Regions from separate parts of the Homo sapiens genome. Here region 2 is linked to region 1. The links come from fine-mapping of genetic effects on gene expression. A gene starts in region 1. The other region holds a variant in brackets. All regions are shown on one strand. Distances are between the middles of the regions. Region 1 holds the start of FRRS1 (ferric chelate reductase 1). Region 2 has its middle 10 kb from the start of AGL.

The links. PIP is the estimated chance that this variant, and not a neighbour inherited with it, causes the effect. A credible set is the group of variants that fine-mapping cannot tell apart.
Region 2: its variant is the best candidate, but not a certain one, in a credible set for the expression of FRRS1 in whole blood (TOPMed, PIP 0.57).

The regions. Positions count from the first base shown.
Region 1 is chr1:99,763,812-99,769,201 of GRCh38, forward strand. It overlaps FRRS1 (ferric chelate reductase 1), which reads right to left and starts at 2,824. Exons shown (of 17, transcript NM_001361041.2): 1 at 2,796-2,824.
Region 2 is chr1:99,837,307-99,842,696 of GRCh38, forward strand. It overlaps the pseudogene RPL39P9. Among named protein-coding and RNA genes, the nearest start is that of AGL, 10 kb to the right of the region's middle. The variant T/A (reference allele first, on the strand shown) is at 2,808.

The DNA.
Region 1 (5,390 bases):
GAGCCGAGATGGCACCATTGCACTCCAGCCTGGGCAACAAGAGTGAAACTCTGTCTCAAAAAAAAAAAAAAAAGAATGAAAAGAAAAGAAATATATCTTACAGAAAAACCCATACAGTTAAGCAAGGATTATTTCCAGTAGCAAAAATGTTGGATAATTTAAGTGGTTACAAAAATAAACTACGCTATACCCAAACTATATAATACTTGCTAAACGTTAACAAAATGAAATAGAGTAAACAGATAACAAATACATCAGCTAATAATTATTGAGTGCATTCTAGGAGGTAGGCATTGTTTTAAGTACTTTGCAAGTATGAACTCATTTCACAAAAATCCCAAGACATGAATCTGCATGTTAAGAAGATACATGCTCATGCTCCACTGAGGAATCAAAACAAGAAAACTGCAAAATGATATGGAATGTACCAAAATATACATAACTTAAAAGGAAAAGAAAAAAACCTTTATACATGCTTCCAATTGTTCTCAACAGTGTTTACCCCTTAGGAAGGTATGTGTTTTCAGGATGGGAAGAGTGGGCTTCCTTTCTTTAATGCCCTTTATAATGTGCATTTTTTTTAAAGCATGTAGTGTTTTATAATTTCAAAAAACACTACAAAGTATGTACATGTAAGACTGTACAGAAACTGATTTGAAGGTGGTTAGATATTTTCTTTTTTCTATTTTCAAACATTCTATGTTACTTTTACTATTTTTGTTTGTTTTGATAAAGAAGACCTTCACCCCTCTTTCAAGATCCATTTAAAACGCCGTCAACTACTGTCCTATGATACAATGAAGTGTATGGACTTTGAAATATCACAGACCTAGGTTTGAATCTGTCCATTAATGTAATCCAGCAGGCACCACCATAGTGACCCTGGACAAATTATTTAACCTTACTGAGTCTTAGTTTTCTCACTTGTTAGAGACAATGCCACCAATATCAATGGCTTGCATGAGGATTAAATAAAATACTATCTCCAAAATATCTAGCACAATGACCACCATTAACAAAGTCTCCCATATAAAACTGTCTTCCTTTCTTGGATTCTTGCCTAATTCCACCAACCTGAAATAACTGTTCACTCCATAAGCTTTAGTTTTTCCTAATAAATTTTATCATGTTTTTCTGCCACATTTGGTGACTTGTCTTTTGGTAAACCTCTGGATATCAGTAAAGGTGTCCTACACATTGATCTCCATTCATTCTGACTAGCAGACAACCTTCAAAACAGTACTCATACAGTGTGATTGTTATGTGAATTTTGAGAAAATCCAATATTAAAAAAGCTGACAGGTGTGAAACAGAGAGTACACTTCACCAAAAAAATCAACATACTGGCTAACTAAATGACGAACTAAAACTCACTTCTCCAACCTAACAAAACCATCTCTTAAAAGGTCTTTGTTTTCAATAAGCTGATAGATCAAATTAAGCCCCCAACTTCAGTTCTATCCCAGTATAATACTCAAATCTTACCACTTTTTTAAAAATACAGAAGTGGCTGGGCGCGGTGGCTCACGCCTGTAATCCCAGCACTTTGGGAGGCCGAGGCAGGCAGATGACCTGACGCTGGGAGTTCGAAACCAGACTGACCAACATGGAGAAACCCCGTTTCTACTAAAAATACAAAATTAGCCGGGTGTGGTGGTGCCTGCCTGTAATCCCAGCTACTCAGGAGGCTGAGGCAGGAGAATTGCTTGAACCCGGGAGGCAGAGGTTGCAGTGAGCCGAAATCCCGCCGTTGCACTCCAGCCTGGGCCACAAGAGCAACACTCCGTCTCGAAAATAATAAATAAATAGGCCAGACGCGGTGGCTCAAGCCTGTAATCCCAGCACTTTGGGAGGCGGAGGCGGGCATATCACGAGGTCAGGAGATAGAGACCATCCTTGCCAACACAGTGAAACCCCGTCTCTACTAAAAATACAAAAAATTAGCCGGGCGTGGTGGCGGGCGCCTGTAATCCCAGCAGTATACTCAGGAGGCTGAAGCAGAAGAATCGCTTGAACCCGGGAGGCGGAGCTTGCAGTGAGCCGAGATCGCGCCACTGCACTCCAGCCTGGCGGACAGAGCGAGACTCCGTCTCAAAAATAAATGAATAAATAAATAAATAAAAATAAAAAATAAAAATACAGAAGCAAATGAAAATATCTGAACTGAAAAGTTTAGCTATGTTAAGAAATATTCCTAATAACACATTTACAATTTGAAAAATCCCCTTTACCCTTTAGGGCAGTATGACAAGCACACACAAAAATAAGTGCAGTGATAACACCTTGCCACCCTGGAGTCTTTCTGAAATTTTAACGACACACCAGGGCTAGGGAGTGGGAGGGTAAGGGGACTAAAAGTTCTAGATAAAAAGCCACTTTAAAAACCAAATAAGGTTCTAAGTGACCCTGATATAGGTAACCATGCCACTAGCTTTAAATATAAAAAAAGAGTTCCTACAGTTTTAAATTTAAAATTAAAAACAAAAAAAAAACTCCTGCAAGAATAAAGTCAATGATTTTCAGGATCCCAAACACGTCTCTACTTATAACCACCCATATCTTGGAATTAAAGCTTGTTAGTCAAAGTCACAGGACATATTAACCTAACTCGTTAGTGAACACTCATTAGCTCAATTCAAGCTCCAGAACATAGTTTCGGAATACAGCACCCGTTCTGCCTGGCCGACTGCCCTGGTCAGCACAGGCACTCGCTCTCCAGTCTGTCGCTAAGCTGGATTTGATTTTTAACGCTTTACAAAGAGCTTTGACATTAAGGAAAAAGACGTGACACTTACCTTGAGAAGCGAAGGCAGCCTAACCAACTTCCGGTTTTGTTACAACTTGTATCACATTTCAGCAGCTGGGTGGAGCCAGTTAAGCCTTGAGCCAAAAGGGAACCTTTCCCAAACTAAGCTGCAGAACTTGATTTGCAAGACCAGTGCTAGTTTTAGGACTCCATTTCTGAAAACTTAGAATTCTGTTTTACACTAAGGAACAGTGTTTGCCAACTAGTACCTACTTCGCCACAAAAATTATAGTTTTTGTGTTTAATTGCAAAACTATTTGAAAATACCTGTTCTATAATAGTGCTAAGTAAAAGCAAATTAACTTTTAAAAAGTGGAAAAAGATCAGATTGCATAGAACCGAAACCTTTCTGCAGTGTGAATGATATAATGCAAAAGAAATCTTTTATTTTGCAAATTACCCCTGAAATTTAGGAGTTTTGTTTCTTTTTAAGCCTTTAATCTGTTTCACAAGACTCTTTTGCAAAAGAAAAATTTTAGGGCTAGGAAAAGACAATGTAATTGAATTTTTAACAATCTTTGTTTTTATTTTGTTTTTTGTTTTCCTGTTTTTTACTTTTTTTCTTCTCTTTAATGTAATTGAAAATATTAAACATTCCATTTCAGACCTTGAGTGACATTGTAATTGCCCAGTGGGTTCACCTTGCCCGCTGTCTAGACAGAGCCGATTTATCAAGACAGGGGAATCGCAATGGAGAAAGAGTAATTCACGCAGAGCTGGCTGTGCAGGAGACCGGAGTTTTTTGTTTTGTTTGTTTGTTTGTTTTGTTTTGTTTTGTTTTGAGACGGAGTCTCTGTCTGTGGCCCAGGCTGGAGTGCGGTGGCATGATCTCGGCTCACTGCAGCCTCCCCGTCCTAGGTTCAAGCGATTCTCCTGCCTCAGCCTCCCCAGTAGCTGGGACTACAGGCGCCCGCCACCACGCCCGGCTAATTTTTGTATTTTAGCAGAGACAGGGTTTCACCATGTTGGCCAGGCTAGTTTGGAACTCCTGACCTCAAGTGATTCCACCTGCCTCAGCCTCCCAAAGTGCTGAGATTACAGGCATAAGCCACCGCGCCCAGCCCGGAGTTCTATTATTACTCAACACAGTCTCCCCAGGATTCGGAGATCAGAATTTTTAAAGATAATTTGGCGGGTAGGGGCTTGGGAAGTGGGAGTGCTAATTGGTCAGATTGGAGATGGAATCATGGGGGGTCGACGTGAGGTTTTCTTGCTGTCTTCTGTTCCTGGGTGGGATGGCAGAACTGGGTGAGCCCAATTACCGGTCTGTGTGGCATCAGCTGATCCACCGAGTCCAGGCTCTGCAAAATATCTCAAGCACTGATCTTAGGTTTTACAATAGTGATGTTATCCCCAGGAGCAATTTGGGGAGGTTCAGACTCTTGGAGCCAGAGGCTGCATGACCCCTAAACCATAATTTCTAATCTTGTAGCTAATTTGTTGGTCCTGCAAAGGCAGACTGGTCCCCAGGCAAGAAGGGGGTCTATTCAGGAAAGGGCTACTACCAATTTTGTTTCAGAGTCAAAACATGAACTGGATTCCTTCCCAAAGTTAGTTTGGCATATGCCCAGGAATGAACAAGGACAGCTTAAAGATTAGAAGCAAGACAGAGCCAGTTAGGTCTGTTCTCATTCACTGCCATAATTTCCTCAGTTATAAAAGGCTTTGCAAAAAGCCTTTTTGCAAAGGCGCTTTCAACATATGCAGACTGGAAAATAGATTATGACCCATGCCTTGACCTGTGAATGCTGGTTATCAATCAACCCCAGTAAATTCTTTAAACCATTTTTAAAGAGAGAACAGAGAAAGGAACACCATCACGTTACGCTTTCTCTTAAAGAACTAGTCACAATTAACAAAAGCCCCTCTCTACAGGTTATTAAAGAGAGGCTTTAAATAAAGATGACCCAGAGTTGGTTTGCTATCCTAAAGCTGCTGGGAACATGAATAGTTTTAAACTAAGTCAGCTGATCTTCAGTTCTTCAAAGCCTCAAGTGGTGAAATAGCCTTCTGCAGATAACAGACCCTTTCCAGGAACTGTCCCCATTGCATGCCAAAAGTATGATATGTCTATAAAACAAAAACTCTTCGACTATATTATCAGAACCCTACATTCTAAAGCACTCTTAGGAAGTGGTACGACACAGTGGGAAGAACTGAATGGAGAGAGAGGCTAGCTTTGTCTAAAACAACCCTTTCACTAGGCTCAGTGGCTCACATCTGTAATCCCAACACTTTGGGAGGCCGAGGGGGGTGGATCACGATATCAGGAGTTCAAGACCAGCCTGGCCAAGATGATGAAACCCTGTCTCTACTAAAAACACAAAAATTCGCCAGATGTGGTGGCACACGCCTGTAATCCCAGCTACTCAGGAGGCTGAGGCAGGAGAATGCTTGAACCTGGGTGGCAGAGGTTGCAGTGAGCAGAGATCACACCACTGCACTCCAACCTGGCCAATAGAGCAAGACTCCATCTCAATAAATAATAAATAAATAAAACACCACCCCTTCTGAGACTATCATTTCTCTCCATGTCCCCAGCTATAATTCCACCTTATCATTCCCTTCCAGATCACCTCTACCA
Region 2 (5,390 bases), 73 kb after region 1:
GCGGGCGGATCACCTGAGGTCAGGAGTTCGAGACCAGCCTCAACATGGAGAAACCCCGTCTCTACTAAAAATACAAAATTAGCCGGGCATGGTGGTGCATGCCTGTAATCCCAGCTACTCGGGAGGCTGAGGCAGGAGAATTGCTTGAACCTGGGAGGCGGAAGTTGCGGTGAGCCAAGATCGCGCCATTGCACTCCAGCCTGGGCAACAAGAGCGAAACTCCGTCTCAAAAAAAAAAAAAAGAAGAAGAAGTGGATAATACATGAGTCTATATAGCTTTGGAAAAAGAAAGCAATCAATTATGACATGGAGTACATGAGAGAGTACAGTCCTTTCTTAATACCAAACTCTAAACCTTTCAATTCAACAATAGTTTGTCAAATGTCATAACTGCTCACTTTTGCACTATTTGTAGAACTTGAATGTTTTCATATTTATACTTCACAGTAAATTAACTATATGGAAGTTACTGATTTTGATGTATTCTCTCTTGGGGAAAGGACAGGGAAGAAAGGGCAAGAGACACACTGTTCTTGGATTCCTTCTCAAGATGTTATTGAGTGTTTTCTATACAACAGGCAATGTTTTAGGTGCTGGGGATTCCGGAGAAAAGATATTTTCTCCTCTCAATAAGCTCACCCTCTAGTAGGACAGACATTTAATTGTTAGGTCAGGATACCTGATGCATTCTTAGGAATTTTGCCACTCTGAGAGCTTTGTTTTGACAGGTTTGTTTTCCACCCTTCTGAGCTGGGCAAAGGACACACAAAATCAGCTGTCAAATCAATTCCTATTCAAAACTGAGGAAAAAAAAAAAACTAACCAAAGTTAAAGCTTTTGAAAAGACAGTAAATGCATCATGGTTAGCACTATGCTAACCATAAATTTACCATGCTGCTATAAGATATAGCAAAATCAAGCCCTTTCCTGTGATACTTCAAAAAGGAAAAGAAAATATGTATTCTTTAAAAAATAAAGAGGCCAGGCACTGTAGCTCACACCTGTATTCCCAGCACTTTGGGAGGCCGAGGCAGGCGGATCATTTGAGGTCAGGAGTTCAAGACCAACCTGGCCAACATGGTGAAACCCTGTCTCTACTAAAAATACAAAAATTAGCCAGGTGTGGTGGCACACACCTGTAGTCCCAGCTACTTAGGAGGCTGAGGCAGGAGAATCACTTGAACCCGGGAGGCAGAGGTCGCAGTGAGCCAAGATCACGCCACTGCACTCCAGCCTGGGCAACAGAGTGAGAACTCTGTCTCAAAAAAAAAAAAAAAAAATTAAACATAAAAAATAAAGAATCATCTCAATTGATGCAGAAAAAGCTTTTGACAAAATTCAACATCATTTCATGATACAAACACTCAGCAAACTAGAAGAAAACTACCTCAACCTAATAAAAGCCATATGTAAAAAAATCTACAGCAAACATCATACTCAACAGTGAAAGACTGAAAACTTTTCTTCTAAGGTCAGGAACAAAGCAAGGATAACCACTTCCACCACTTCTATTCAACATATTGAAAGTCCTAGACAGAACAATTGATCAAGACAAATAAATGAAAGCTTCATCCAAATTGAAAAGGAACAAGTAAAATTATCTCTGTTCACAGATGTGATATGTAGGAAACTAAGATACCACACACACACACACACACACACACACACACACACACAGTTAGAATAAATGAATTCAGCAAAGCAGCAGGATACAAAGTCAATGCACAGAAATCAATTGCATTTTGATACACTAACAATGAGTAATCTGAAAGGAAATTAAGAAAACAATTCTATTTAAAATAGCATTTAAAAACTTAGGAATTCACAAACCAAAAGGAGACCTGTACACTGAAAACTATAAAACATTGCTAAAAGAAATTAAGAAAGACATAAATAAATGGAAAACCATCCCATGGTTCATGGATTAGAAGATTAATATTGTCAAAATGTCAGTACTACCCAAAGTGATCTACAGATTGACTTTTTTTTTACAGAAATAGAAAAATTAGTTTTAATATTCATGTGGAATCTTAAGGGACCCTGAACAGCTAAAACAATCTTGAAAAAGAAGAACAACATTGGAGGACTCACATTTCCTGATTTTAAAACTTACTACAAAACTTTGGTAATTGAAACAGTGTGGTACTGGCATAAAGACAGATATATAGATAGACAAATGAAATAGAATAGAGAGCCCAGAAATAAACCCCAGTATATATAGTCAAATGTTTTCCAACAACAGTACTAAGACCATTCAGTGGGGAAAGGACAGTCTTTTCAACAAATAGTGCTGGGAAAACTGAATAGCCACATGCAAAATAATGAAAATGGACTGTTAACCTAACCCCATATACAAAAATTAATTCAAAATGAATCATAGACCTAACAAAAGAGCTAAAACTATATAATTCTTAGAAGAAAATATAGGGCAAAACTTCATGATATTGAATTTGGCAATGAATATGACACCAAAGACACAGGCAAAAAGCAAATAGATTAATTGGATTTCATTAAAATGTAAAACTTTTGTGCTTCAAAGGACACTATCAATAGCATGAAAAGACAGCCTACAGAATGGGGGAAAATATTTTAAAATCATACATCTGATAAGGGATTAATATCTAGAATATGTAATGAACTAATCTAAAACTCAACAACAACAACAAAAATTCAAAAGTAGGCAGAGGACTTAAATAGACATGTCTCCAAAAGATTTACAAATGGCCAGTAAGCACATAAAAAAATGTTCAACATCACTACCCATTAGGGAAATGAAAATCAAAAACACATTGAGATACCATCTCACA[T/A]CTACCAGGATGGCTACTATAAAAAAAACAAAAAATAGAAAATAAGTGTTGGTAAGGATGTGGAGAAACTGAAATCTTTGTGCACTGTTGATGGGAAGATAAAATGTTACAGCCACTGTTGAACACATTATGGTGGTTACTCAAAAAGTTAAAAATAGAATTACTATATGATCCAGCAATTCTACTACTGGGCATGTACTCAAAAGAATTGAAAGTATGATCTCAAAGAGATCATTGTATACCCACTGATATGGTTTGGCTGTGTCCCCACCCAAATCTCATCCTGAATTTCCACATGTTGTGAGAGAGACCCGGTGGGAGGTAATTGAATCATGGGGGGCAGGTCTTTCCCTGCTGTTCACGTGTTGGTAAATAAGTTTCATGAGATCTGATGGTTCTATAAGGGGAAGTTTCCCTGCACAAGCTCTTTCTTTGCCTACTGCCATCCATGTAAGATGTGACTTGCTCCTCCTTGCCTTCCACCATGATTGTGAGGCCTCCCCAGCCACATGGAACTGTAAGTCCATTAAACCTCTTTCCTGTATAAATTACCCAGTCACGGGTATGTCTTTGTCAGCAGTGTGAAAACAAACTAATACACTCATGTTCCTAATAGCATTATTCATAAGAGCCAAGAGCAAACCACATGTCCATTAACAGATGACTAAATGTGTGTGTACACAAAATGGAATACTAGACAGCCTTAAAAAAGTAATCCTAGGCCAGGCATGGTGGCTCATGCCTGTAATCCCAGCACTTTGAGAGGCCCAGGTAGGTGGGAGGATTGCTGGAGTCCAGGAGTTCGAGACAGGCCTGGGCAACATTATGAGAACTCGTCTCAACAAGATAAATAGATAAAAATAAACAAAATTAGCTAGGCATGGTGGCATGAGCCTATAGTCCCAGCTATTCGGGAGGCTGAGATGGGAGGATCACTTGAGCCTGGAAGGATGAGGCTTCAGTGAGTCAAAATCATGCCACTGCACTCCACCGTAGGCAACAAAGTGAGATCCTGTCAAAAAAAAAAAAGAAAGAAAGAGAAAAGAAATACTATCACATGCTACAACATGGATGAACCTCAATATTTTGCTAAGTGAAATAAATCAGTAACAAAAACTACTGTATGGTTTTATTATATGAGGTACCTAGAGTCATCAACATCATAGAGACAGAAAGGAGTAGCTGCCAGGAATTTGGAAGGGGGGAATGGTGCATTATTGTTTCTGATATAATGAAGTTAGTATTTCTAAAGATATTAATGTACTTTCTTATTTGCCTTTGCAATATGCAAGACTTTCTCCATTCAGCCTAAGACACCCATCTGCCTCTGTAGGAGATTTGGATTGTAATAGAATAAATGCATAGAGGAAGGAGAGGTGATGTTTAACACCTGACATTCAAAATAGGATTTTGCAGCAAGACTATGGGCAGTTTGAGAAACAAAAAAATTTCTAAGGGAAACCCATTCTCTTAAGAAAGGGTTTGAAAGATTGTAAAGATGAGAAAACCTAAAGAAAAGAGGAGGCGAAGGAAACGGTCTGATGTATCATGATAGAAGCAAGTCCAATAGGTTGAGGGGATTACTAGATTATAAATTCCATGCAGGCAAGGATTTTTGTGTGTTTTGTTCATTACTGTATCCCCAGTGCATAGAACAGTGCTTAGTACACAGCAAACACAGTGTTTACTGAATGCACACAGGGCTTTTTGTTCTGCTCCCTGTTCTGAACTCTGGTTGTAGAATGCTATACTAGGCAAAAAGGGTGCGGGGGTTGGGGGGGGTCCAAAAAGAGGGATCCTAGAATGATTAAGAGGGTAAAGCAAGATCACTTACATATAGGACCTGGGTTTCAGCTCCAGTACACATTTTATAGATCCACCATGACAGAGTTGAGGTGATTCCAGCAAAGCCTTATCAAATGGATGTCTTGGGCCTTGGACCAGGCAGAGAACATTTTAGGTACTCAGAGAGGGGTCTGTAGTGAAAGTAGGATCAAGAAAGGCTGAGACAGTAGGGGAGGAGGATGCCTTTAGACTCTGGCCAAGCCAAGAAAGAATAGACAGGAAGTTATCAGCTACAGACATCAATAGTTTGTGCCAACAGGATTACCAGGAACAGGACTAGACAGATACACATTAGGTGATGCCAGCCCCTGCACAAGAACCAGTTCAAGGTCACAGAGTTCAACTCCCCCAGTGCAACCAGTTCATGTGAGATCCTGCTCCTTATACTAGACATCTCTTAGAACAAAGTAGAGAGAGAAAGGGGCGTCGAAACAATAGAACAATGATTTCAAAGAGACTGGGTTAAAGAGATTATTTAAATAATTGGCTCAGAATTAGTTTCCAACCAGATTAGACTAAAATTATTTTTGTTTTCCCACACCTGCCTAGCAGTTAGGAAACGGTAAAGGAAATTGGAGAAGCTTTTAAGAATAAAATATACTCTCTTCCTTTCTCTGCCATCGAGGTGTGTGCTTGACTCTGCTTCTTGCCATGTCTTCTCACAAGACTTTCAGGATTAAGCATTTCGTGGTCAAGAAACAAAAGCAAAATCATCCCATCCCCCAGTGGATCCAGATG